7 linked regions of the Homo sapiens genome follow. The protein of the gene in region 2 interacts with the protein of the main gene of each other region in a pairwise test. Each region holds a gene or a part of one and is shown on either strand. Other genes may lie near its edges. The genes, in order: ITGB2, FOXD4L6, LRIF1, STEAP1B, STIP1, NDRG1 and ATXN3.

What was found.
Region 1: the proteins of FOXD4L6 (region 2) and ITGB2 interact in binary tests that used the Homo sapiens proteins (3 or more experiments, as listed by UniProt).
Region 3: the proteins of FOXD4L6 (region 2) and LRIF1 interact in binary tests that used the Homo sapiens proteins (3 or more experiments, as listed by UniProt).
Region 4: the proteins of FOXD4L6 (region 2) and STEAP1B interact in binary tests that used the Homo sapiens proteins (3 or more experiments, as listed by UniProt).
Region 5: the proteins of FOXD4L6 (region 2) and STIP1 interact in binary tests that used the Homo sapiens proteins (3 or more experiments, as listed by UniProt).
Region 6: the proteins of FOXD4L6 (region 2) and NDRG1 interact in binary tests that used the Homo sapiens proteins (3 or more experiments, as listed by UniProt).
Region 7: the proteins of FOXD4L6 (region 2) and ATXN3 interact in binary tests that used the Homo sapiens proteins (3 or more experiments, as listed by UniProt).

The regions. Positions count from the first base shown.
Region 1 is NC_000021.9:44,896,900-44,900,399, reverse strand, and holds part of ITGB2 (integrin beta-2 isoform 1 precursor), read left to right. Parts: coding exon 1-80; intron 81-1,237; coding exon 1,238-1,333; intron 1,334-3,500.
Region 2 is NC_000009.12:41,125,935-41,130,057, forward strand, and holds FOXD4L6 (forkhead box protein D4-like 6), read right to left. Parts: upstream 2,748-4,123; 5' UTR 2,450-2,747; coding exon 1,196-2,449; 3' UTR 501-1,195; downstream 1-500.
Region 3 is NC_000001.11:110,953,923-110,957,422, forward strand, and holds part of LRIF1 (ligand-dependent nuclear receptor-interacting factor 1), read right to left. Parts: intron 1-3,500. UniProt on the Homo sapiens protein: Together with SMCHD1, involved in chromosome X inactivation in females by promoting the compaction of heterochromatin.
Region 4 is NC_000007.14:22,497,389-22,501,554, forward strand, and holds the start of STEAP1B (STEAP family member 1B), read right to left. Parts: upstream 2,801-4,166; 5' UTR 2,726-2,800; intron 1-2,725.
Region 5 is NC_000011.10:64,192,671-64,196,170, reverse strand, and holds part of STIP1 (stress-induced-phosphoprotein 1), read right to left. Parts: intron 3,094-3,500; coding exon 2,884-3,093; intron 1,983-2,883; coding exon 1,841-1,982; intron 1,693-1,840; coding exon 1,551-1,692; intron 527-1,550; coding exon 358-526; intron 1-357. UniProt on the Homo sapiens protein: Acts as a co-chaperone for HSP90AA1. Mediates the association of the molecular chaperones HSPA8/HSC70 and HSP90.
Region 6 is NC_000008.11:133,255,753-133,259,252, reverse strand, and holds part of NDRG1 (protein NDRG1), read left to right. Parts: intron 1-22; coding exon 23-85; intron 86-826; coding exon 827-887; intron 888-2,389; coding exon 2,390-2,476; coding exon of another isoform or gene 2,477-2,527; intron 2,528-3,500. UniProt on the Homo sapiens protein: Stress-responsive protein involved in hormone responses, cell growth, and differentiation. Acts as a tumor suppressor in many cell types. Necessary but not sufficient for p53/TP53-mediated caspase activation and apoptosis.
Region 7 is NC_000014.9:92,103,783-92,107,759, forward strand, and holds the start of ATXN3 (ataxin-3 reference isoform), read right to left. Parts: upstream 2,801-3,977; 5' UTR 2,771-2,800; coding exon 2,747-2,770; intron 1-2,746. UniProt on the Homo sapiens protein: Deubiquitinating enzyme involved in protein homeostasis maintenance, transcription, cytoskeleton regulation, myogenesis and degradation of misfolded chaperone substrates.

The sequences.
Region 1 (3,500 bases), on a different chromosome or scaffold from region 2:
GGAAGCTGGGCGCCATCCTGACCCCCAACGACGGCCGCTGTCACCTGGAGGACAACTTGTACAAGAGGAGCAACGAATTCGTAAGTCCCCACCCCAGGCACCCAGGCACCGCCTGGCAGGACACCACTGACGGAGGAGACAAGGGTGGGGTCTCCACCTGACAGAGCCTCCTTCTGACCCAAGGAGCAGATTCCTGAGGAAACTTCTGGAAGCCCCAAGTGGCAGCGTGGGGTCTCCCCGGACTGGCCTCAGGCCAGGGGAGGGTAGGGTTGGTGGGGGCAGCCAGGCTGAGGCCCGGCCTCGCCCTTGTGGGACACCCAGGCTCTGTTGGTCTCCAGCCCCACTGCCCCCCTACCTGGGCTGACAGCTGCTGTGGAGGTATAGTAACCGCCCCCAGGCTACGGCTGCACCCTGCCGTCCCCGCCTCTGGCCAGGGTCCCATCCCCAAGCATCCGCCTCCTCCCCCTCCCGGCCTCCACTGTACGTTCCCTGCTGCCCCTGAGTCCGCCTCCTCCAGTGTGGCCCCTCCCTGCCCCCATTGCCTGAGCTGGGTGAGCGGCTGCGGGGACCATGAGGAACATGCAGGGAGGGACAGAGGCGAGAAGGAGCCCAGGATGCACGGGTTAGGATGAGCCTCTCTGCGGAGGCATCTCAATGGCTCAGAGGGGCCAGGACTTCTGGCTGGGATCAGCCGTGGGCCGAGAGGCAACCACTGGTCACAAGGGGCTTGTCCTCGCTGGCCGTAGTGCGACGCTCTTGCAGCCTGACGTTGTAGGCTCTGGGGGCCGCAAAGGACTTTAGAGATACAAGACTCAGGTCCTCCGCCGGGAGCCACAGACGGGAGGGACGGCCCTCGGGTCCCGGAACTCGGGTAGGGAGAGCCGCACCTGACACTCATGGCCTCTACCGAAACTGAGTGTCCCTCAGTGCGAAAGCAGGTCCACCGTGTGGGGAAGGCTGGGATTCTGCCCCCGTGGACATCCCCAGTCCCACGGTGAGACGCCTCAAATGCTGCTCATGCCTGGACTCTGAAAGCCCGAGTCTATGCACACATTGCCCAGAGGGCGTGGCAGCTCTCTGCCCTGCACTCCTGCGTGGCAGCCTCTGCCTCTCCAGCCTTCCCCAGAGAGGGTTCGAAGCACGGGCAGGGCTGACGCTGAGCGGGGCAGACAGGGGCGGGTACCTGGAAGCCTTGTCCTGGACTCGGGGCCAACTGAGCAGGACCTCCTCTCTCCAGGACTACCCATCGGTGGGCCAGCTGGCGCACAAGCTGGCTGAAAACAACATCCAGCCCATCTTCGCGGTGACCAGTAGGATGGTGAAGACCTACGAGGTGAGTGCTGTTGGGTCCCGAGCATCCATTGGGTGGGGGCATGTTTCAGCCACAGGCCAGACCCAGCGCCACTGCAGGTCTGAGCGCCACCTCTGCATGCTGGGCACGTGAGCAACCAGCCGGCCCAGGTCCTGGATCCCCCTAGGTGAGGAGCCCGAGGCTTCCCGTCGGGGACAGGACGCCTGCGTGTCGATAGGAGGAGGAATTCCTCCCCGTCCCTGAAACTCAGCTGTGTTAACAGCATGTCTTGGCATTGGTGATATTTCTGTTTTTTCCTGGAATACAACACAATTCTTTATTTTATGGAAACACACTTATTTTATGCTCACATACATTTGAACATCAACACTCTCCGTGAAGATAAAATTACACAAAAACGTTCACAAGCTTGGAGTGCGGAGTGGGATGAATTTCACGAAGGAAGCACAGCTGATAACCAGCCTCTGCTCCTAGAAAAAGAGGCCCCCAGTGAAACACGTTCATCCTGCATTTCCGCTGCTAGTGCCATGTGTTCAGCCTGAGCAGGTCAGTGCGTCAAGACGCTCAGGTGCTGTTGGGGTTCCCAAGACCTTTCTCAGGATCAGTGATTTGCCGGAAGGACTTGCAGAGCTCAGGAACCAGTAAACTCACAGTTACAGTTTATTGCAGAGCCGACCCTCCTGGGTGCCAGCCGCTGCCCGAGGTGGGAGGATACAGACAAAAGTCAGCAAAGGTCAAAGGTGCACAGGAGAGAAACCAGGCACCAGCTCCCAGTGTCCCCTCCCTGCAGGGGTGTGGGCGGCGCTCCATCCTCCCAGCGATGATGTGTGGCCTCATGCACAGAACATGGTCCCCAAGGAGGCTCTTGAGCCTCGGTGTCTACTGGGGGTCAGTCACAGCGGCGCGGCTGACACCCCATGGCTGACCTCAGTCTCTAGCCCTCCAGAGGTCAAGCTGAAAACTGTCCAGGGCCCCACCCCAAATCACACTGTGGGACTATCCGGTGTGACCTGAGGCCCCAGGAACAATGACACCCCCATCGGGTAGGATGTACCAAGGGCTCAGAGGCTACCTCTCAGGAGCTCAGCCGGGGTCTACCACTCTTTGGCATGTGTGGGGTGTGGCCAGCCAGGCCTGCTGGGTGGAGCCCTGACTGTGTAACAGGGATTCGCTAGAAGGAAGGAAACACTGCACGCCCTCCTGAAAGGAGCCTCCGCCCATAGCAGCCTGCACAGTGTGTGGCCCTGAGGCCACAGGGACAGAAGGACTGAGCTGGAGGAAGGAGGTGGTTGTCATTGTACTTTACACAGCCACGTGCCCCGTTCTTCAGGGTGGAGCTGGAGGAACGAGATAGTTGTCATTGTACTTTACACAGCCACGTGCCCCGTTCTTCAGGGTGGACAGGGCCCTGGGTGGCTCACCTCACACCCAGCTCTGTTACTTACCACAGGACGCCCCAGGCCCTTCCTTACCCCGAGCCCTCAGTTTCCTCATCTGTGAAAGGGGTAGTGGTGCCCGGCGGGCAGTGCGTCGTGGGTACTGAGCTCACCCACTCAGGGAATTCACAGAGCAGCCGCCCTAAAGGGCCCGATTATCCTCATCCGGACAGTGACCGACCTGCTGGCCATTCCAGGGCCATCACCGCCATCTTCTTCAAAATGGCACGCAGGAAACCAGGGCCCCCTCTTCCCCCTGCCTGGGGCTCTGCCCAGCTGGGCAGCCTCACAGCCCCTGCCCTGCTGCTTAGGCTGAGGAGACATACTCGGGGTTTGGGGAAGGAAAGTGCCCGGGAGGGCCGCTGCTTTTGTAAAGTGAACATTTGCTGAACTACAGGGATCCATTGTCAGGCCCGTATCCCAGCTACAAGCTCAACCTCGTGGTGTGTTGGGGCCGACAGCGAGACCAGCGGTTCCTGCCATAGGTTCCCCGGGCTCTGGAGTGGGAGCAGGACCCTGCGGGAGACACGGGATGGGGGCAGGTGTCTGGGGGACCCTCCGAGTGGGCACCCAGAGCTGGTCAGGCTGCCGGGACAGTGGGTCAGCGCAGGGCAGGGCTGGGGCCGGACATCCACAGAGACCACCTGCTGGTCAGGATGTCACAGCCCTGTGTCCCATCTGTAGGTGGCCATGACGGTCCCCTCCTCACCAGCAGTAGCAGGTCCCAATCCTTTGCCATTTGTCATGGCAGC
Region 2 (4,123 bases):
TGTCTGGTTTCCCCCCACTCCGTCCCCTGACGCCGAGTAACACTTAAACCTTTCTAGTTGCAAAGTCTTTTCAGAGTTGTTTTTTTTTTAAGAAATAAGTTTTGAAAATTCTAGTGCTTAAAATATATATATATATATATAATTTATAGCCTTTTATTTTCTCTGAGTACATGTTGGCCACTACATTCCAAATTGATCTCAAATGGTTTTCCAGCTTGTTGAGGGGTGATGAAAAATAAATGGAGAATATATTTACATGCCCTCCTATTCTTTTCTTTTAGAAGTCTCATAAATAGTAAATTTCCTATTTTAAAAGCCAGGACATTTTCAACCTCAAATATTTGGAATTTTTAAAGGCCATATTAAAATGGATTACTTCTGCTATCTATAATAAATATGAATTGTGAAAATAAATTGTTTGAGGGAAAGTAACGTAGGTTTTAAAAAGTTCCATTTAGAAAGGGAAGAATGAGATGTAATAGAAAATAAACGATGTAGTGTAGTGACTTAGCATTTTATTTCGTCTATATAACTAGGCTTAATTTTAACACCTTAATTTTAACATTAAAGATGGCACGTCAGACACACAGATAAGAAATCAATGTTCTGAAATTAATATCCTACTTACATTAAACATCCCTATCAGGAAGACACAGAGAGTAGAAGCATTTTGCACTAGACTTAGGAATAATACTTCCAGCTCCAAGGAAGTGAAGAAGGGGGAACATGTTTGGCATCGGAGGCTGTGTTTTTGTTTGCTTGCTTGTTTTTCTTTTAATGCCAGAACAAAATACCCCACTCACGTTCATAGTACCCCAGGAAATGCGCAAATCGGGACAGCCATAGAAGCCACAACCGAAGGCAAGAAAAGATGACTTGACGCCCTGCGAAGGTTACGTTCAGGTGGTTTTTAGAGGAACGTAATCCAGCTGTTTCTTTCTAACCATTTTGCAGCGAACAGAAGTTCGTGTTTGCTCTCCAGCGGGATTCAGATGCACACGCCCTGAATGGGCCGCGCAAGGTGAAGTGAGCAGCTGCGGGTCGCTCCCCACTCCCACCTGGCTCTAGGAGGGCCCTGCGGAGTTGGCCAGGGAACTGGGCGTGGGCGATACTAAAAAAACTGGTGAGGTCCCCTCTCCGCCCAAAGGGGCAGCCAGCGATGTCAGCCTAGAGCCCTCTGCCACTGCCTGATACCTCAGCAGGGCCGACGAGGCCGACAGGTGCCCGCCCAGCACCGCGCCCTTGGTGGGAGCGCAGCCGTTGGCGCAGTCCTCCTCCTGATGCTGCTGCTATTGCTGCAAAATTGTCCGAGCAGCGGCGGCGGCGGACACTTGCAGCAAAGGGGCAGCGGTCTGGGGATGCAACAGGCTTGATGGTCGCTGGAGCAGGTGGCAGTAGCTCCACGCGGTCGGGGACAAACTCTGCGCAGCCCCTGTACCCGCTCCCCTGACCCCTTGCATAATACTCTCAATGCTGAAAGAGATGCATCCGCCTCCCGGTGGCGACGCCAGACCCTTGCCCTCCTCCCAAGGCTGAGGACCAAGTGAGGGCTGCAGCACGGGAAGGGTGCCGGGGTCGCCAGGGCCGCGCCTTCTGCTTTCTTCGGTGCCCCGGCATAGACGGGGGCCGAGAGCAGTAGGTAGCGAAGAGGATGCGGGTGCAGCAGAGCGTAAGGGCGTCTCCCGGGGGCGGTGTTGGGGTAGGCCCCCGGGACTGGCTGCGGCGGGGCAGGGGCCCCAAGCAGAGGGCCTGGGTGGGGGTTGTGCAGGGCGGCGTGTGCAGCAGGTAGAGGGAAGGGGTGGGGCAGGTGGGCTCCCGGGGTCAGTTGGTGGCGCTTGAAACGCTTCCTACGCCGGAGAAAGCTGCCATTGTCGAACATGTCTTGGGAGGCGGGGTCCAGGCTCCAGTAGTTGCCCTTGCCTGGGTGGCCCGGCTCGCGGGGGATCTTAACGAAGCAGTCGTTCAGCGAGAGGTTGTGGCGGATGCTGTTCTGCCAGGCGGGGAACTTGCGGCGGTAGTAGGGGAAGCGGCCACTAATGAAGGCGCAGATGCCGCTGAGCGTGAGGCGCTTGTGCGGGTTTTGCAGGATGGCCATGGTGATGAGCGCGATGTACGAGTAGGGGGGCTTTGCCGGCTGCCGGGCATCTTCAGAGGCCGCCGCAGACCTTGGCGGTGCCCTGAACTTGGTGCCAAACTCTGAGGGGTCGCTCGGGCCGCCGCCGCCCTCGATGTGCTCTCGGGGAAGCGCAACCCCGCCCCACCGGGCCACCTGCAGCCCCGGCTGGAGCGACTGCTCTAGGAACTGCTGGCTCGCCGCCTCCTCCTCGTCTTCCACCTCGTCTTCATCTTCCTCCTCTCCCAGGACATCGATTTTACCGTCTTCCCCATCGGAGTCCCGGAGGCTGCGCTGCGGTGTGGAGCGAAGGCGCTCAGCTCTTGGCAGGTTCATGGAGGAGCAGGTGCTTCAGTCGCAGGGGATGTGGCGACCGATCACCTAGCCTGGGGCGGGCTGAGCTGGAAGCCTGGGATGAATGTTGCAAGAAGCAGGAACGCTAGTGGTTACCCTTTGGGATGTTTTCGTCTGCTTGTTTCTACTCCTTTGCAACAACGTCCGGCAAAGATGCCTTTGCCTTTTATAAAAGCTTCTTCAAGACCATGTGTGGTGGACTCCCCCCTTTATAACCCTTCTTCCCCTACCTCGGAGCGGTGCCACTTCCTCCTAACGTAGTCCAGGGATGATGGTCTTCTGGGCAAACACCCGTCCGGAGAAAAGCCCAGCCCCCTCCTCCTCGCACCCACCTGCCACCAAGGAAGATGCTCTACTCATCCGGTGCAGCCAGACAGTTGGCAAGCCTTTGCACGGGTTCTGTTAAGGCGCATTTAAACCCGCGCAAATAAAAGCGAGGTAGGAAAGTATGATACTCAACATTCTATGACCACCTCAACATGCAGCCTTCCCGCCTGGAGAAAAGAAATGGTGGGGCAGGAGGCTGAAATGTACACGGTTGTTTGTAAAGGAATGTGTAACCGTAAAAGTATGTTTTTGTGTTTCACAGCTGGTAATCACCCATTTTCATTGGTAGAGTCTGCCCTTACCCAGAATGGTGAGCTGAATTATATTTAAGGTTCTGACAATATTCCCAGGCTTCAGGGGGGTGTTGCTTTGCTCCTTCTACCTTCCTTCCCACCTCCTCAAGATGCTCTCCCTGACTCAAATTTTCAGAAAAGGCTCAAATGTCCCAGCACTAAATTGTGTAAGTTTACTCAGGGAAGGCAGGAGAGCTCACACGGAGTCCTCTGTCCCCTTGTAGCAATGGTTCTCCAATTTCTTTGAATATTTAACCACAGAAATACATTTTATATCACAATCTCACACATACAGACATAATACATAACTAAGATGGGTTTCACGAAACAATATACTTACACTATAGTGATCACTGATATTTCCTTTTAAAAAAAAATGGCCATAACCAACTAAATTGATTTCACACATACCAGTATGGGCCCAGTTTGAAAAATCCTGTTCTTACAAAGTGGCCCCACATACAAGAAATGCACCCACTCTATAAGGGCTTCTCTCTCTCCCTTTCCTCCTTCCTTTCTTCATCCTTTATAACCAATTCATTTTTAGAGACAGGGTCTATGTTGCGCAGGCTGGCTTTGAATTCCTGGGCTCAAGTGATCCTCCCGCCTCAGCCTCCTGAGTAGGTGGGACTACAGGCGTGCCACTATGCCTGGCTCTGGCTCTTCATTCTTTTTTTTTTTTTTCTTTTTTTTTTTTTGAGACGGAGTCGCTCTGTCGCCCAGGCTGGAGTGCAGTGGGGCGATCTCAGCTCACTGCAAGCTCCGCCTCCTGGGTTCACGCCATTCTCCTGCCTCAGCCTCCCAAGTAGATGGGACTACAGGCGCTCGCCACCACGCCTGGCTAATATTTTTAGTAGAGACGGGGTTTCACCGTGTTAGCCAGGATGGTCTCGATGTCCTGACCTCATGATCCGCTTGCCTCAGCCTCCTAAAGTGCTGGGATTACCGGCGTGAGCCGCCATGCCCAGCCTCTTCATTCTTTCAGAAATGTCAACATTAAGTGCTTTTACTGTAATAAAACTTGGGACTTCAATGA
Region 3 (3,500 bases), on a different chromosome or scaffold from region 2:
ATATCATAGATTGTCATCATATATTAATATGTTTGTCTATAGACTGTCTCTCATATTATATTCTACCAATATGAGTGCAGCATCCATATACCATAGACCTAGCATGGTCTTAGATAACTAAGATCAAATAAATACAAAAGTTCAAGGGCAAATAATAACGATAATAATTAGGATTCTCAAAAGCATAAAGGTATGTTTTTAAAACTCTCAGGTATTAATAAAAATCAATACCCAAAATTCTATGTATCCGTAGAAATTTGGTTTACCTTTCTGCAGCCCGAATAACATTATTATATCCTTACAAAAATTTAAAAGTCTTTTGGACACGTGAGAGTGGGTCAAAATATTACATTGACATTTTGTTATTGTTGCTGTTGAGACAGGGCCCGGCTCTGTCATCCAGACTGGAGTGTAGGTGTACAATCTTGGCTCACTGCAATCTCCACCTCCTGGGCTCAAGCTATCCTTCTACCTCAGCTTCTCAAGTAGCTGAGACCACAGATGCACGCCACCAAACCCGGCTAATTTTTGTATTTTTTATAGAGGCAAAGTTTTGCTATGTTGTCCAGGCTGGTCACACACTGACTTTTAATAAATTAAAAGTTAACTTCTAAAGAGAATAAACCCAAAGAAAAGGATGAATTCTTGCTTTCAGGGTTTTAAGAGGAAAAATCTACCTTTATTACCTCCCTGCACCACAAGAAAAGCACATTTGACCTGGATAAGAACATATTCAATATTAAGTCATTACACAAAAATTTACCAAGTGTCTGTTTTAAGTTAAGCACCAGGCTCATCAGGAAAAAAGGGTCAGTAAGCTGTAGCCTCTGGGCCTAATCTGGCCCACTCTGTTTCTGTGCATTCTTATATTTTAATTGATTTTTAAAAATCAAAAGAGTAACAGTAGCCTCTGTAGTGGCTCCTCAGTCTTCTTTGCCAACTCATACTTTTGAATCAACTTTCAAATGTTGGGAGTTTACCAAAGCTTAGAAAGAATCCTTCTCTTCCTATTCTGTACTCTTTTGTTAGATGCTTTCTTCTCAATGCATAACTTCAATTAAATTATCACTTACGCATGAACAATTTCAATATTTCTATCTGTGGCTTCTTTGAAATTTAGGCTTATACATCCAAATTCCCTTTTAACATTTTCATTCAGAATCTCAAACGTTCCTAAAATTCAACATGGCCAGCAGATCTCTGCCCATCCTAATCCCCCCAAGTTCCATCTTCTGCAGGGTTTTCTTTGCTAAATAGCATCTCATCTACCTTAGGTGCCTTAAGTCAGAATAGATAAATCCTCCTTTCTTATTCCTTATATTCAGTGATCACAAAATCCTGTTGATATTGTCTCCTAAATTTCCTTTCATCTGTTCAATTCTCTCCAAATCAACTGTTACCACTCTACTCCAAGCAAACATCATCTCTGGCTTAGAATACTACAATAGCTTCATGACTGATTTTTTTCTCCAATCATATCTTCTACCTTTCAATTTACTCAGCACACTAAAACTGATCTTTCCCTGCTTAAAACATTGCAGTGGCCTTCCATTATTCTTAGAGTCGTAGGAAGAAAACCATTGCTTCTGATGCAATGTTAAGCCAAAGGAACAGAGGATTTTAAGAAAATTGGGCAATTATACTAAAAGTTTCTGAGATGCCAAATAGGATAAGGATTAAAAATGTACACTGAAAACAGTGCTGTGAAGATCACTGATGGCTTTAATAAGAGCAGTGTGGTAGGGGAAAGAAGTTGCTGAGGAGTGGGTATGAAGCAAGTAGACAACTCTTTTTAAACTTTGACTGTCAAGGGGAAGAGAACGACTGGCAGGAAGCTACAGGAATAAATGGAATCAAAGAAGGGATCTTTCCTTTTTCTTTGTTTAAGGTTAGATTAACCAGAACATATGTAAATACTCAAGTGAGCCAGTTCAGGGAAGAAACTGGTAATAAAGGAACAAAAGGGATACACAATGAGAAGGAGGCAGGAAATGGAAACCAGAGAGACAGGTGGAGGGACTCAACCTTAAAGAGAGCTGGAGACCTATCTCCTTCCATTGCAACACTGGAGGAGAGATTATGTGCATTTTCAGGTAAGCATACAACTTTGGGGTTAGGAGGCTGAGGTAATTCTCATTTAATGGGTTTTATTTTCTTTATGAAAAATCACATGACATCATCTGCTAAAAGTAAGAGCAAAAATATGGAAAGATTTGAGGATAATCAAAGATTGGAACAGTCTTCGTGAAGGAGTAAACTGACCACAGAAGATATTAGAGTTGCCAGGATGTGTTGATGGCATGGGGAGACAGGTAGTGGTTATGAATTTATAGTGGTACTAATCTGTACTCGAGATTTTTCTTGTCACACCAAGCACAGATAAAGAGAAAGCATACTGAGTTCATCCAGGGTTGGGGTGGCATCAGGAAGGTGCAACAAAAAAATCAAAGAAGAGCAAAAGAATTTAAGGTATTGATAAGAGTTATTAAAATGAAACAGAGTCTAAACTGGATAGGAAGAAAATGAGAGAATAAAAGGCTAAAGTATAGGGATAAAATAAAGGGATTATTGGTCTGTAGGGCCAGATAAAGTTAACAGTTACAGTAGGAACAGTTAAACAACTCAGCTAGAAATACAGGAACTGGCATTTAGAAAACAGGATGCGTGAAACAGTTTCGTAGATGCAGCAATTTCATCTAATAATAAGTACTACAAAAGTAGATAGGTGCAACAGAACAGAGAATAAGATCACTGGGGGAAAAGATCTCTGTAATAAAGATGAGGTGACAAAGAGATTATCCATACGGATATTGAAATCACATGAGGGAAGATGGTGAGCTAGATGGTGAACTAAGCGCCAAGTTCAGTGACAGGAAGTTGGTAGATGGTGTTAACAAGCTGCAATTAAGTGATATGCCAGAAAGTTATCTTGAAGCCTACTTTCTTCTGCAGTCTATTTTCTTTCCTATTATTCTACTAAAACTTCATTCTCAAAGATTACCAAATATGTTCTCACAGTTAAATTTGTCTTTATCTTCATTCCCTAGGTACCTCTCTGTTGCAACTAATTATCCCTCCATATTGATCCTCTTACCTATCATAGTTTCCACTGTGTACAACCTCTGTTTCTCTTGACTTTCCTAATGCTCCCTTACTCATTTTCTGCATTCTAAGCATTCTCCTTTAACTATCCCACATTTCTTGACCCTGTTTTTCTCCTTCAAGACATTCTTCCTTAAAGACTGCAACAATTCGCCAGGTGCGGTGGCTCACGCCTGTAATCCCAGCACTTTGGGAGGCCGAGGCAGGTGGATCACGAGGTCAGGAGATCGAGACCATCCTGGCTAACACAGTGAAACCCCATCTCTACTAAAAATACAAAAAAAAAAAAAAAAAAAAAATTAGCCGGGCGTGGTAGCAAGCGCCTGTAGTCCCAGCTACTCAGGAGGCTGAGGTAGGACAATGGAGTGAGGAGGCGGCGGAGCTTGCAGTGAGCTGAG
Region 4 (4,166 bases), on a different chromosome or scaffold from region 2:
TCCTGGTGGCATATTTCAGTATTTAGAGTCCCTGAAACTAGATCCTGAATTTTTCAGTTAGACAGTCAACACATTCCCTTTTTTTTTGGTTTAAGTTAGTGTGATTTGGGTGTTCACCACTGGCATGTAAAAGAATTCTGAGTAAAGCATATGCCAATCATCAAGTATTTATGAACCCAACTCTGTGACCAACATTAAAGAGGAAAAATAGAAATGACACTCATGCCTGCTCTGGAGGAAATGACACTCTATCTCCTTAACAGCATTATTCCAAGTCATTTGGTGACTTAACCAACTGTATTAGGCTGTTCTCGCACTGCTATAAAGAAATACCTGAGACTGGGTAATTATTATAAAGAAAGGAGATTTAATTGGCTCATGGTTCCATAGGCTGTAAAGGAAGCATGGCAACATCTGCTTCTGGGGAGGCCTCAGAGGGCTTATAGTCATGGTGGAAGGTGAAGTGGGAGCAGGCGTCTTACATTATTGCAGTGGTCCCCAACCTTTTTGGCACCAGGGACTGGTTTCGTGGAAGACAATTTTTCCAAGTAGGGGAAGGGGGATAGGGTTTTGAGGTGAAACTGTTCCACCTCAGATCATCAGGCAATAGTTAGATTCTCATAAGGAGCACACAACCTAGGTCCCTTGCATGTGCAGTTTGCAATAGGGTTCATGTACTTAGGAGAATCTAATGCCACCGTTCATCTGACAGGAGGTGGAGCTCAGGCAGTAATGCTCGCTGGCCTGCCACTCCCCTCCTGCTGTGCAGCCCAGTTCCTAACAGGACACTGACTGATACCAGTCTGCGGCCAGGGGGTTGGGGACCCCTGCACTAACGTGACAACAGCACCAAGGGGGGATGGTGTTAAACCATGAGAAACTGCTCCCATGGTCCGATCACCTCCCACCAGACCCCAGCTCCCGCACTGGGGGTTACATTTCAACATGAGATCTGAGGGGGAGACACAGCTCCAAACCATATCACCAACTTAATAGTTTGTGGGGTGGGGGAGGGAGGTGCTAGGAATGGAAGTGTCACCTACTATAATCAAATGTAAGAAATAATCCACTATGTTTAGAAGATCTTTTAACTTTGAGAGGTGCAGGATGGTAAGGATGCTAACAAATCCACCCACATTTATTCAGTATGAATTCAGTAACTATATTGTGAACAACAATGTAAGGCAGGAGGAATGCAAAGTTAAATGAGATAAAGCCTCTGCTCTGAAAAACCTTGAGGTCTAGGAGAGAAGGCAGGCATTTCAACTGCATGGTAGAGCGATGTATCCTAGAAGAGGATAAAGTTTTATAGGCAGATGGTGGCATGGGAAGGGAAGTAGAGGAAAAGGCTCAGCGCTGTCTTCTAGACCCAGTCCTGGGGTAGCTAGCAGGTTGGCAGTGTTTGCTGACTGATTGCCACTACAAAGAGTCTGGGTGGAAAACCAGAGTGGCCCTGGAGAGTTACCCAGCCATTTGTCTGCATGGTAAGGAGACCACACTCAAGAGCGAAGCCAAGGAAAAGCCCATGACAGTGAGGAAGCTTGTTGACTGTGTGGCCCACACTCAACTCTATGCCCATAAGCCAGGAAAATAAACTATGAGTCAAATAAATTTGTTGGTTTTCATCAGACATTAACCAAAATGTAATTTAAGTTCTACAGTAAAATCTTTTCATAAAAAGAAAAATAACAGAAAACAACCTAGTGTTAAAATGTTAGGAACCCCAGAATTCGACCCAAAGTTCTCTTTCACCCGCTTTTAAAAAAGTGGAGCACATTTCTAATGCGACTGCTGTTTTGCTGTACCAAGATGGCTGCCCTGGTGTTCCTAAATGTTGGCACAGCCCAACTGACTCATGTTTATGTCCCGCAGTTGAGAATATGAAGAAACCCAATGCCTGGAATACATTGTGGGTTGCACTGCATTTCCAACCTTTTATACTTTCAAGTGCACACTTGTTTTACATTTAACTAAGTGAAGTCGAGTTTTTTGGGTTTTTTTTTCACTGTGCTGTTTTTCTTTTTAAGCATTGCTTTCCCTCTGTGCTTAACATTCATGTTAAATGAATAACCTTTTATTACACGTCAGGATGTGGAGGGAAATGTATTTTACAAAAGTAACAAAGTAAGAAATTTGGAAGTGTACAAAAAATTTATGTCTACAAACTCCTTCCAGTGGATTTGACCAGAATTACATATTTAAAGCCTTGATTGACTATTTTGGAGGGAACCTGAACCCCACCCAGATCCTGAAAGAGTAGGGCCAGTGTTCTAAGGACTGAAAATGAAAACCTCTGTTACCAGGAAACCCGAAGACGAGAAGTAGCACGATTTTAAGTACTGTGCACCAGTCATTCGTCAATGCACAGCAAACTCTGGCGACTTTGCCACGTTAAAAAACTTGCCATCAAAATCCAACCTGAGCACAAACTTAATAATCTACCACAACCTTAAGCCCCTAGCGAAAAGGCTTCCTCTGAGTCCCTGGCTCCCCCCAGCCCCCGGCCCGGCCACAACCCAGCTGGGCTGGAAGACAGGGCGCCCCAGAGCCGCGCATAAGCGAAGAATTGAGCACCGCTCGCCCAGGAGGGCCGCCGTCCAGGTCACGAGAAGGCTTGCGACCCGCTACACCCCTCCCAAGACTGGGAGCGGGCGCCCAGCCTTGCAGGGACACGCAGGCGGACTCGAGGAGCAAACGGCCAGTGAGAACGATTCAAGGGACTCACCCACTCCTCGCCGTAGCTTGACCGTGAGTCTCAGCTGCCGCTGCTGCCGGGAGGTGCCGGCCCCACGCGGCGCCTGAGCCTCCAGAGCGCGAAGCCTCCAAGCCTGCTGCAGGCCCCGCCTCCTTGTCAGTTGCGCGTCCAGCGCCACCTGCTGGCGCCCCGCGTCCGCAGGGTTCGGGAACGTCCTTGGAGGCTAAGACTCCCCAAGTCGCACTCCGGCCTCTCCCAGTTTCCTCTCAAATGCCGTCTGCCCTGCCCTTGAGGTCCGTTTCGCGCCCTCCAACCCCTCGCCTTTTGTTTAATCTCCACTAAGGAACGTTTGTGCATTTCTCTAGAGCAGTGGTTCTCAGACTTCAGCGTGTATAAGATTACCCGGGGGCATATTAAAACACCGATTGTTGGGCTGTCCACCCACAGTTTCCGGTTCAGTATGTCTGGGATGAGGTCTGAGATTCTCATTTCTAACAAGTTCCCATGAGATATGGAAGCATTCCCAGATCACACTTTGAGATAGACCGTTTAGAGCTTACAAACCCTCCCACACGTTAGCTTATTTATTTTTATTTTATTTTATTTTTTTTTGAGACGGAGTCTCAGTCTGTTGCCCAGGCTGGAGTGCGGTGGCGCGATCTTGGCTAACTGCAACCTCCGGCCCCGGGTTCAAGCGATTCTCCTGCCTCAGCCTCCCGAGTAGCTGGGATTACAGGCGCCTGCCACTGTGCCCGGCTAATTTTTGTATTTTTAGTAGAGACGGGGGTTTCACCATCTTGGCCAGGCTGGTCCTGAACTCCTGACCTCGTGATCCACCCGCCTCGGCCTCCCAAAGTGCTGAGATTACAGGCGTGAGCCACCGCGCCCAGCCACCTTATTTAAAACCTAACAGCCGGTCCTGAAGTGGCTGTGATTGACAGTTTGAGGAATCCGAAGCTGAATTTCTGAGAGTGACTTGCTCCCTGAATTGTTCAAATTGTGTACCTTTAATCGCACAAACCCTGCTCCCCAGCCGAAAAAAAAAACCCTTAAACCCCATGTTTACTCCGTCCCTCCCTTCCTTGCCTCAGCTTTTAAGTGCAGCTTCCCATATCCTAGCTCAATGAAGTATTCCAAACCTAAAGTAAAGTTAACTGTTAATATTCCAAGGTTTTAGAAAAAGACAACTTGAGCAGGGGATTTACTTCTCTCCGTTGGAACCAGCCTCGAGATAGGGTCTGAGACATGAATTGCAAAATTCTGGGGATTTGGTATACAACATTCTCAGGACTAAGCTGAGTAGAAAACACAAAGGAAAATAAACGCGCAACCACATTTTCCATGATTGTTTTTTATTCACAGCTAGGGCACCGAAGACTGTTCATGTTTTAATATAAGCATTTTCTGTAGTCACTGACTTTCCATGGATTAGTTTAAAGCCCTTTGAAGATTAAATTACCGTGGACTGACA
Region 5 (3,500 bases), on a different chromosome or scaffold from region 2:
GCCCACCTTGGCCTCCAAAAGTGCTGGGATTATAGGCATGAGCCACCGTGCCTGGCCTGAAGCTGATTTTTTAACATGCTGGCCATTCTAATGAATAATAGCCATAAGCTTAGCGCATACTAAAGCACTCAAAATAGTTTTAGGTGGGCACAGTGGCTCGTGACTGTAATCCTAGCTGAAGCAGGAGCATCGCTTGAGGCCAGAAGTTCAAGACCAACCTGGGAAACACAGCAAGACTCCGTCTCTAAAAAAACCATAATAATCATGGTCAATCAAGGTCAACAGATGTCCCCATTCAACATAAAGATTTCTAGTTGTTTATAGATAGGTGACAGTGAGGAGAGAAAAAAACAAGACCTGCTTCTTATTCTCTGGAAGATCTTCTTCCATTGGCTCTGGCTTGGTCTCCTTTTTGGGAGGGGGTGGTGGTGGAGGTGTTGCAATCTCTTCCTCCTCATCCATACTGCCCAGATCGACCCCAAGGAGGACGCTGAGAGTGGTCATGATCCGGGGATCTTGTAGTTTCCTAGTATTGATTTAAAAAAATAAAGAAAAATTGTAATTACTCCTCCCCACAATTAGTCTTTTAACTCCCACTTACTACTAAAGTCAGATTCTTGTGTTTAGAAGCTCCTCACCCATCAAAAGATGGCTAGATTTTGCACCACTCATGAGTTACAATTGAGAAATACTCAAACCGTCAAAACACTATCTAAAATAGAGTCAACAAAAACAAATAAAATGAAGTCACAGATAGCGGAGCACGGTGGCTCACACCTGTAATCCCAGCACTTTGGGAGGCCGAGGCGGGCAGACCACTTGAGGTCAGGAGTTTGAGACCAGCCTAGCCAACATGGTGAAACCCACCGCTACTACTAAACATACAAAAATTAGCTGGGCGTGGTGGCGTACACCTGTAATCCCAGCTACTCAGGAGGCTGAGGCAGGAGAATCGCTTGAACCCAGGAGGTGGAAGTTGCAGCGAACTGAGATCACACCACTGCACTCCAGCCTAGGGGACAGAGCGAGACTCCATCTTGAAAAAATAAAATAAAATAAAATAAAATAAAATGAAGTCACAGAGGTCAAGTTTATTCCTCAAGGTTAGCAGATACACAGAGGAATGAGTTGTTTTAGGTATACTTCCGTAGCTGATCTCAGGAGCCAGAGGATTGATAGAGATGAATACCAGTACAAGATTTAGACACATCTTTACACATGAACTTCAACCCTGTTTCCACTCTGATATACCAACAGAGAAAGTAGGGCCTAAGTAGATGGAAAGGATGGGGTTGACGCTAGATCAGAGTTCTAGAAGAGCAGGAGAGAGGTGTATACAGATGACAAAGAACATTCTAGATTACTGTGAAATATGCTCCCCTGACCCTTTCTATAATTACAAATAAACGACCACCACCTACTGCTCTGCAGAGAATAAGCAAAGGCAAAAACTCTGCAGTTTAGACCAGGGAACCCTCTGCTGTGAGGTTACAGGAAGAAAGCATAACATTCCCCGATTTCCAGAACCTCAGTGAGCGGCGTCCACTTACGTGCCCAGGTCAGAAGGCTTGTTTCGTAGCTGCTCTATCAGCTCCCGGTAGGTAGGATCACTGAGTAGTGTCCTTGTCCTGGGATCACTCTCCAACTTCTGATACAGATTAGGCATGTTGAAAGGGTTCATGAATTTTCTCTCTGTCCAAATAAAGGAAAGCACATCACTATGAAATGAGTTCACTAGAATTACTGTGTCCCATACCCTACCAGACTGACATTTCTCAGGGGTGAAGACTCAAAATTAATCACATTAATAATAAGAAAGAAAACTGTGCGTGGTACCTACCTGCCAACCTGGCCTCCATATTCTGTAAACCCTCTTTCAGTTGAGGGTTATTTGCCTCGTGTTTTAAGCCCTCCTCATAGGTTCGCTTGGCTTCTTCAAAGCGGTTTAAGAACTCTAGAGCTGCTGCTTTTCGTGAATAGCCCTTAAACCACCAAAGACAGACACAAAATAGAGAACACCCAGAGGTAAATCTAGAAGACGAACTCAAAAAAGAACAATTCTACTTTTATGGGGGAAAAATGAGTATTCACATGAAGGCCAAAGAGAAAAAAAGGAGAGGAGTAGGCTACGAGGCCAAGGCTGCTACTGTAAGGATCCATCCAAATAGCAGAGGCACATCCGCCCCGCCTTGTTCACCTCTGATCGACTGTGGTCAGTTTCTTTGGCAACACTTTTTCCCTTATTTTTTTGGTAAAGACAGGGACTCCTTATGTTACCCAGGCTGGTCCCAAACCTTTGGGCTCCAGTAATCCTCCTGCCTCAACCTCCCAAAGTGCTGGGATTATAGGCGTGAGCCACTGTACCGGGCCTCTTCCTTTTTTTTTGAGACAGGGTCTTGCCGTGTCACCTGGGCTGGATGCAGTGGCACGATTTCAGCTCACTGCAACCTCCGCTTGCCAGGCTCAGGTGATCCTCCTGCCTTAGTCTCCTGAGTAGATGGGACTACAAGCACATGCCACCATGCCTGGCTAAATTTTTTTGCATTTTTAGTACAGACAGGGTTTCACCATGTTGGCCAGGCTGGTCTTGAACTCCTGACCTCAAGTGATCCGCCCACCTCAGCCTCCCAAAGTGTTGGGATCACAGGCGTGCGTCACCGCGCCCAGCCCTGGCCTCTTCCTTCTTAGTACCAAAAATAAAGCCTGTATTACAACTAATGGCTACCTTAGATTTGATGAAAAATGCCATTTCTGAGGAGGATACTCAAACAGGGAGGTGGGTAGGTAACTATCAGTGTATCAGGACAGGTAAACCTCAGGCCACCAAAAGGCATTTCTGGAAGGGTCTGAAGGGCCTCTCTCCCTCCACTGCCCACAGCTGACCTTGCCCCAGTCAGGCTTTAGGTCGACAGTCTTGCAGCCATCCTCATAAGCCTTCTGGTAGTCTCCTTTCTTGGCATAGGCAGCAGAACGGTTGCTGTACAGCACGTGGTTGTGGGGATCCAGCTTAATAGCTTCGGAGTAGCACTGTAAGGCATCATCGATGTTACCCACGCTCAGGGCCTTGTTGCCTTTCTCCTTCAGCTCATTGACCTGAGGGGAAAGGAACACACAGCTTCTCTATGATGTGCCCATTTAATCCCAAGCTTTAAAGACAACACTCATTCTTTCATGTAGTTACCAACAAATAAATAGGTGACTTTACAGATCAGAAGAGAGAAAACCGGTTCATTTATTTAATTTCTCACACCTTCCCTAAGGAGCCAGCAAAGAAAAAATAAGCAGGGGCAAAGAGCCCAGGCTGCACTCCACGCTGGCCCCCATGTGACGAACGAGGGCTCTGCCACTCTTCCGGTCTCCACATGGAGCTCACGAAGCCACTCCAGAATGTGCCACATGCTCCTTCCATGGAAAAGTCAATTCATTTGCCACAGATTTCCAAAGCATCCAAATGACAAACAGAGCACAGCCCTAGTCACCCCTCACAGGAAGAAGGTGGG
Region 6 (3,500 bases), on a different chromosome or scaffold from region 2:
GGCTTCTCTGTGTCATCCCCAGGTACATGTACCCCTCCATGGATCAGCTGGCTGAAATGCTTCCTGGAGTCCTTCAACAGTTTGGGTAAGAGCGAAGGATCAGCTCCTTCTCTGTCTGCAGAGAAGCCTGGTTTCTAGCATCTTCCTGCCCCTTGGCTTTGATCTGGACTGACCACTAAAATTAAGGTTGCAATTTAGAGATGAGGCAAGAAATTAGCTCGTCACTCTGTGAACACTGTTCTTCACACAGTCTCTGAGCTCTAGTCTGTCTCCTCTAACTTCAGTTTTCCTCTTGCGTGAATGTTATATTGCATGATGGCAGCTGCCCCACCCATTTGCTCTTGCCTCCTGTTCTTCCATTCCCTTCTCTTTCCCATGGAATGTTCTGGAATGGAGTTGCCTGAGTCCTTAGCTTTTCTCTCCACACCCTCATTTTTCCAGTGTTCCTCTCTGTCTTGAGCTCTTCAAAGAATGATAACTTCATGGTTCTTGCTCAATTTGTTTTCATTCCAAGTTTTAGAATCCAAAATAAAGCTTAAGAGTGGGAAGAAATGATGCCGTAACGGGCCTTCCCGTAAATGTCAGACGGTCTCTCAGAGCCTGGGTGGCGGCCAGGAGGGAAGTGAGGAGAAGGGGCGCGGCTCTCCAAGGTCGAGGTCTCTGTCCAGTCCTAAAGCATGGTGACCTCAGAGCTGTGCAGGCAGTTACGGCAGCATGCTCCCGCATTGCCTAGCCAGGCGGTCACCCTCAGGAAGTTCTAAGTGGGTCCTTGGAGGCTCCCGTCACTCTGTCCTTGTGTGACATGCATTTGTATTTTTGCTTCCAGGCTGAAAAGCATTATTGGCATGGGAACAGGAGCAGGCGCCTACATCCTAACTCGATTTGCTGTGAGTGCTTTGGCATTTTTTGAAAATCGCATTTTAAATAACATTTTAAGATGAAGGAAGACATTGGAAAAGCATCAAAAACCCAAAAGGGAAAAAGAAATGACCCGTATTCTCCACAGTTGTGTGTGTGTGTGTGTGTGGTGCATGGGTACTCGTATATATATATACTCACAGCCTTTTCTCTTCCTCCACTCAAGGATGATACTGGACACATTCCTTTGTCATGGGCTTTGTCCGCTTAGCCATCTAGTGAGGACGCTCCTCACTCACTGAGTACTCTGCTATGACACTGCTTTGTAACAGCTGTACAGGTTTTTGTAGTCAGGGCACTCCTGGGTCATAACTGATTCTAAACTAGAATCAGACACGGGAAGTTTTCATGACAGTTGTCATTGTTATTTCTCTGGGCTCAGGTCAAGAGCCACTGTTCCTTTGTATCCTCACCGAGCAATTGTGTAAGAATGCAACAATACTCATTTTGTACATCCATTGGTATTTTGACTACCTATTATTTGCTGGGCTTTGCTGGAGGTTGGGAATACTGACATGATTCTACAACATCCATCTTACAAAAAAAAGAAAGGAATGCTGACATGAATACAAAATGGTCTGGCCATATAGGCTCTCAGCAAATTAAAAATGGTCTCAACTGTACCCCAGGTGTACATATCTATATCTGTATGTATCTGCATCACATAATGACATTTTGGTCAATGACAGACTGCACATTTGACAGTGGTTCCATAAGATTATAATGGTTCATTTTTACTGTACCATTTTTATGTTTAGATTTGCTTAGATACATCAATACTTAGCATTGTGTTGCAATTCCCTGCAGTATTGGGTAGCGTCATATGCTGTACAGGTTTGTACAGCAAACCTAGGAGCAAAGGGCTGTTCTATACAGCCTTGGTGAGTTGTAGACTATACTGTCTAGGTGTGTGTAAGTATACTCTGAGATCTTCACACAATGACAAAATCTCCTAATGATGAATTTTCTCAGAAAGTATCCCTGTTATTCAGCGATGCATAACTCTGTCTCTCTCTCTGTGTGTGTGTGTGTGTGTGTGTGTGTGTGTGTGTATGCATGTGTTTATCCTGGAAGTAAGTAATACAGTTGTTACTGCCACAACTAGAGAGCATTTGTGCTGTGCGCCTTGTTTGATTGATGAGGTCGATGGTGTGTTACACCCATTTGATAGCTGGAGAAGCTGAGCCTCCGTGGGTTGAAGTGACTTGCCCAAGGCAGGCCTGCAAAGCAGCGGGCTTCCTACTTCTCCTGCACTTCCTCTTTCTCCTTCCCACTCTCTCTAGGACCCGATACCGTGTCTGCTGTGCTGGAACCTCAGTTTTGCATGGGGTGGGGCCGGGGAGCAGCAGCCTGCTCTGCTGCCCACACTGCCTTTTTCTGGGTACTTCTCTCAAGCTTTGGTTTGCCTTGGAAAGTTCCTAGTGTTTCAGATTGCTGGGATGTCTGTCTCACTTTGTGTCTTGAATTGCAGCTAAACAACCCTGAGATGGTGGAGGGCCTTGTCCTTATCAACGTGAACCCTTGTGCGGAAGGCTGGATGGACTGGGCCGCCTCCAAGGTGAGGTGGGGGCCTGTCAGGCCGGCGGGATCCCTGCAAGAAGAGGGACAGGTGCACACAGCCTCTGCCTGGGGGATCCCTGGAGCTACGAGCTCTCTCTTTACCCACTCCTCCACTACCCTCTACTGCCCACTCCAGTTCCCTCTGCTTTACTTAGAACAGTACACATGACCTCAGCCGTTTGCCATTCAGAAGACTTAAATACCACCAAGCTGTCTAAGCCAGGGAAAGCACTGGGACACAGGTCCCTGAGGCAGCTTGGAGAAGCATTGCTTGGATTAATGAGTATTAGCTGGGTACATAACTTGTGCCAGGCTTTGGTCAAGATGCTGAGCATCTTGAAGAACAAGACTTCTTGAGATGAACAAGACAAAAGCCTCTAGGAATGAATCTTAGGAATCCATTCACATATTATTAAAGAAAAATAAATATGTATTTAGTACGGACTGTGCCACAGAATTTTACGATAATAATTAGCTAACGTAGATTGAGAGTTTACCATGTGCTAGTTTCATTCTACGTTGCTGTGTGTGCATGATCTCAGTTAATCTTCATAGTAACTCTAGGAGGTGAGAATTTTTATCACCGTTTCAGAGGTAAGGACTCGGTGTGGCTAAGGGGATTGTCCAGGGTCACATAAAGCTAGGCAGTAGAACGGGGACTGGATGCAGCTTGCTTTGACTTTGTGGTTCGTGGACCTGACCACCCGTGCCCCTGGGGCTCCTGTCCAGGGTGGGAGACAGGCAGGCCTGGCAAGCAGGGTAGGCTGCCTGGAGGAGAAGGGACCTGTGCTGTCTTGGGAAGCTCTGTCCTGGCTGGTGTCCTAAGGTTCCTTGTTTATCTTTTAAAAATTATCATTGTGGTGTTTTTGTTTTTGTTTTTTTCCCTGTAAAGGCCTCAGTGTTGGCCAAGGAGAGGGGGAGGTCATTCCAGTTGAAATAGGACAGAGTCTTTCAAGCTGAGGTGATCGCAGCTTCTCATTCTGCAAGTGCATTTTTGCCCAATTTTGGGTGGCTGCCAGGGA
Region 7 (3,977 bases), on a different chromosome or scaffold from region 2:
AGGAAATGGTTGCAAGGCCCTTCGTAGGCAGATATTGCTACCTACACAGCTTCTTTAGGGCCAAAGTTGGTTCTCTGGCTCTCCAAACCCAGGACCTAGCAAGGGTTAAAGGTATATTGCAGAGGGGAAGGCAGTGAACGGAAAAATGGCACAGTAAGCCCAAACATTCCCAGAATGGACTGTATAGGAGATTAACAATTGGGCCATATGGTTATAGGTGCGTACTCTTGAGGACGCCCAAAAAACTAAATTGTTGAATCTTCACATGCTATGTAGATACAAGTTGATGATAATGGTAAAGGTATTCCTGAAGTATCTGTAGGCCTATACACATGCTGATAATTAAGAGGGACTCTTTTTTCCTTTTCTTTTTTTTGAGACGGAGTCTCGCTCTGTTGCCCAGGCTGAAGTGCAGTGGCACGGTCTCGGCTCACTGCAACCTCTGCCTCTCGGGTTCAAGCAATTCTCCTGCCTCAGCCTCCAGAGTACCTGGGATTACAGGCGCCTGCCACCACACCTGGCTAATTTTTTGTATTTTTAGTAGAGACGGGGTTTCACCATGTTGGCCAGGCTGGTCTCAAACTACTGACCTCATGATCCGCCCGTCTGGGCCTCCCAAAGCACTGGTGTGAGCCACTGCACCCAGACTAAGAGGGATTTCTTTCGGGTAAGTAGATTTTCACTAGGCTAGCACTCAGCTTTTTTTCATCCCATGGGTCAGTACAAATGTGTCCCAACTAGGTAACAATATTGTTAAAAATCTTGTCTAATTCTCAGGAAGTAGTGTGGAACATGTTTAAGGCCTTCCATGTTGAAATGTGGTCCCACACCAAAGCCTTTGAAAATTAATAACAAAAATATGGCCGGGTGCGGTGGCTCACGCCTGTAATCCCAGCACTTTGGGAGGCCGAGGCGGGCGGACCACCTGTCAGGAGTTGGAGACCAGCCTGGCCAACATGGTGAAACCCTGTCTCTACTAAAAATACAAAAATTAGCTGGGCGTGGTGGCGGGCGCCTGTAATCTCAGCTACTGGGGAGACTGAGGCAGGAGAATCGCTTGAACGGGGAGGCGGAGGTTGCAGTGAGCCATGATGGCGCCATTGCACTCCAGCCTGGGTGACAAGAGCCAAACTCCATCTCAAAAAAAAAAAAAAAAAAGTACGTGTGTATTTTTCACGCACTCTACTCAGCCAAGCAACCAAATCTCTATTGTCTATGATTTACGAGTCATGTCAATCAAGTCAAAAAATTAGTGACAACTATACGACTGAGTCCTTCCTCCCCCACTGAACATCAGCCTATTTCAAAAGTTTCCGAGATGTTTTCTACAATGAAAAGCATTGTACTTAACAATTTGTTCCAGGCACAGTGGCTCACGCCTGTAATCACAGCACTTCGAGAGGCCGAGGTGGGAGAATCACCTGAGTCCAGGAGTTCGAGACCAGCCTGGGCAACACAGCGAGACCCCGTCTCTCCCAAAAACATTACCTGGCCCTGGCGATATGCACCTGTAGTCCCAGCTACTCTGGAGGCAGAGGCGGGAGGATCGCTTGTGCCTAGGAGATCAAGGCTGCAGTGAGCCATGATCTCTCCATTGCACACCTGCCTGGGTGACAGAATGAGACCCCATCTTTAAAATAAAAATTAAAAAAAATTTATGCTACAGATTTACATTTGGTAAATGTATTCTTTTGTCTTTGCTTTATTTGTTGTGTGTGTGTGAATTTTAAATGTCTGGGATAAATGATCATTTATAAGTATTTAATAAAACAAAAACCCTTTGCTCCTCCTATTAAATAACAGCCTTACCAGCAACTCTTTCCAAACACGAAACTATTATGAAACATGATACCATGTGCCAAAGCTGTCCTGGGGAAGGCTTCACTCACACACAAATGGCTGGATAATAGTATGAGAGAAACGAGGAGTTTCTTTACATATCACAAACAGTATCTTCAAGTGCATGGTCACGGAAGAGTTAAAGGGACAGCAGGCTAGGCAGACTACAACAAAATCATCCCAGTCCACTCCTAATACCTAAAAACAAAGCTGGCCGCCTGCTCCGGAAAGATGGGAGTACCAAAAGAAACCAAACCCAAACATCCCGTAATAAAAACTCTTGTGACGACTTCCCTGTTTAGGGGCACGCCGGGTTTCCTACTTCACTTCCTAAATGTCAGGCCCTACAGTGGGCGAGCCAAGGTCTCCTCCCTCGGGAGGCTCGCGGACCTAGTGCAGGGGAAAGACACGAACAAGACCCCAAAGATCTACGTGTAGGGAAGACTCCAATATAGAATTGAGCAGTCCGGAGGAGGAAAAGTTAATTCTGCCAGGATTAGGGTAGGAGGGGTTGAGGGAGGTGTCCCAGAGATGACTCTAGCTAGACCCTAGGGAGAGGGAAGGATTGGGGAGGGGTGAAGGAATCCTCCGAAAAGCGATGGAAAGTGACGGAGAAAGGCAGAAGCAAACCCACTGGGCGCCACCCCACTCCCGTGTCCCGAGACGCCCCCGGCCCCGCCCATACTCCCTCCCGGCTCCCAGGGCGGGGGCCGCGGGGGAAGTAGGGGCGTAGGTGATGCTCCCCTCCTCGAGCCGAGGAGGCGGGAGGCTGCGGCGTCGCCCCTCGCCGGGCGAGATCGGCATGGGGGCGACTCGGGCCCCACCCAGCCCTCCGAGAGGCGGTGATGCCGCGCTCCACGCCCGCCACCGCGCGGCAGACAGCTCCCCACCGAACGCGGACACTCACTTTCTCGTGGAAGATGGACTCCATGTTTATTTGTCTGGAGCCAACGGCCCCCACGCCGAACCACCCCCTCCAGCTCCGCCCCCTGCCCCTCTCCTCCGCCCACCCCGCCCCTCCCCGGCCCGCCCCGGTACCCCGCCCACGTGCCGCACGCAGACCAATCACCCGTGAGGATGCGAGTGTCGTGAAGCGAAGAGCGAGTGAACGCCGGGGACACGTGACCTTGGTAGCGCGTCCTCCTAGCTTCTGTTAGCGGGCCTTCTGGGGGATGCTACATCGCCACCTGCTGTCTGGAGGATCTTCTCCGCTTCCCACCCATTTCTATGGATTCTTAGGTTTCTGGGGGGAGGTCTGGACCGCTCACCTGGGTTCTATGTTCTTTTTGTTTTCCACTTTGACTTTCTACTGTGTTCATATAACTATTTACTTTCTTTCTCCTCCTCCTGCACTGAAAGTTTAGTAAGAAAAAAGCCATCATTACATTCTCCCAAAACCCAGCACTTGTATAAAAATGATAGCTAGGCCGGGCGAGGTGCTTCACGCTTGTAATCCCAGCACTTTGGGAGGCCGAGGCGGGCGGATCACCTGAGGTCGGGAGTTTGAGATCAGCCTGACCAACATGGAGAAACCCCGTCTCCACTAAAAATACAAAATTACCCGGGCGTGGTGGTGCATGCCTGTAATCCCAGGTACTCGGGAGGCTGAGGCAGGAGAATCGCTTGAACCCGGGAGGCCGAGGTTGTGGTGAGCCGAGATCGTGCCATTGCACGCCAGCCTGGGCAACAAAAGCGAAACCCCTCCCCCACCACCCCAAAAAAGAAAAAAAATGATAGTTAATATTTACATAAGGCTTTCTATGAGCTAGGCACTTTTCTAAATGCTTTGCATATATTATCAAATTTAATACAGCAAACTTTGATGTAGGTGTTGATGTTATTCATACACATGAGGAAACCGAGGCACGGAGAGGTTAAGAACAGCACAATGTCCAAGGTCAGATAGTAAGTTGTCTTGCCAGGATTCAAATCCAGGTGGCTTGTTACCAGTGTAGGTGTTCGGACCCTTTAGAGGGAACTTAGAAGTCCCATAAATTGTGTGGGAGACGGGGAGGTAGCAGCGGTTTGATGAAACTTAAATGGAAGGATAGGTGCAGATCTTGCACCTTGAAACCAGATTAAGGTGTACTTTTTTTTTTTTTTTTTTTGAGACGGCCCTCTCTCTGTCCCCCAGGCTG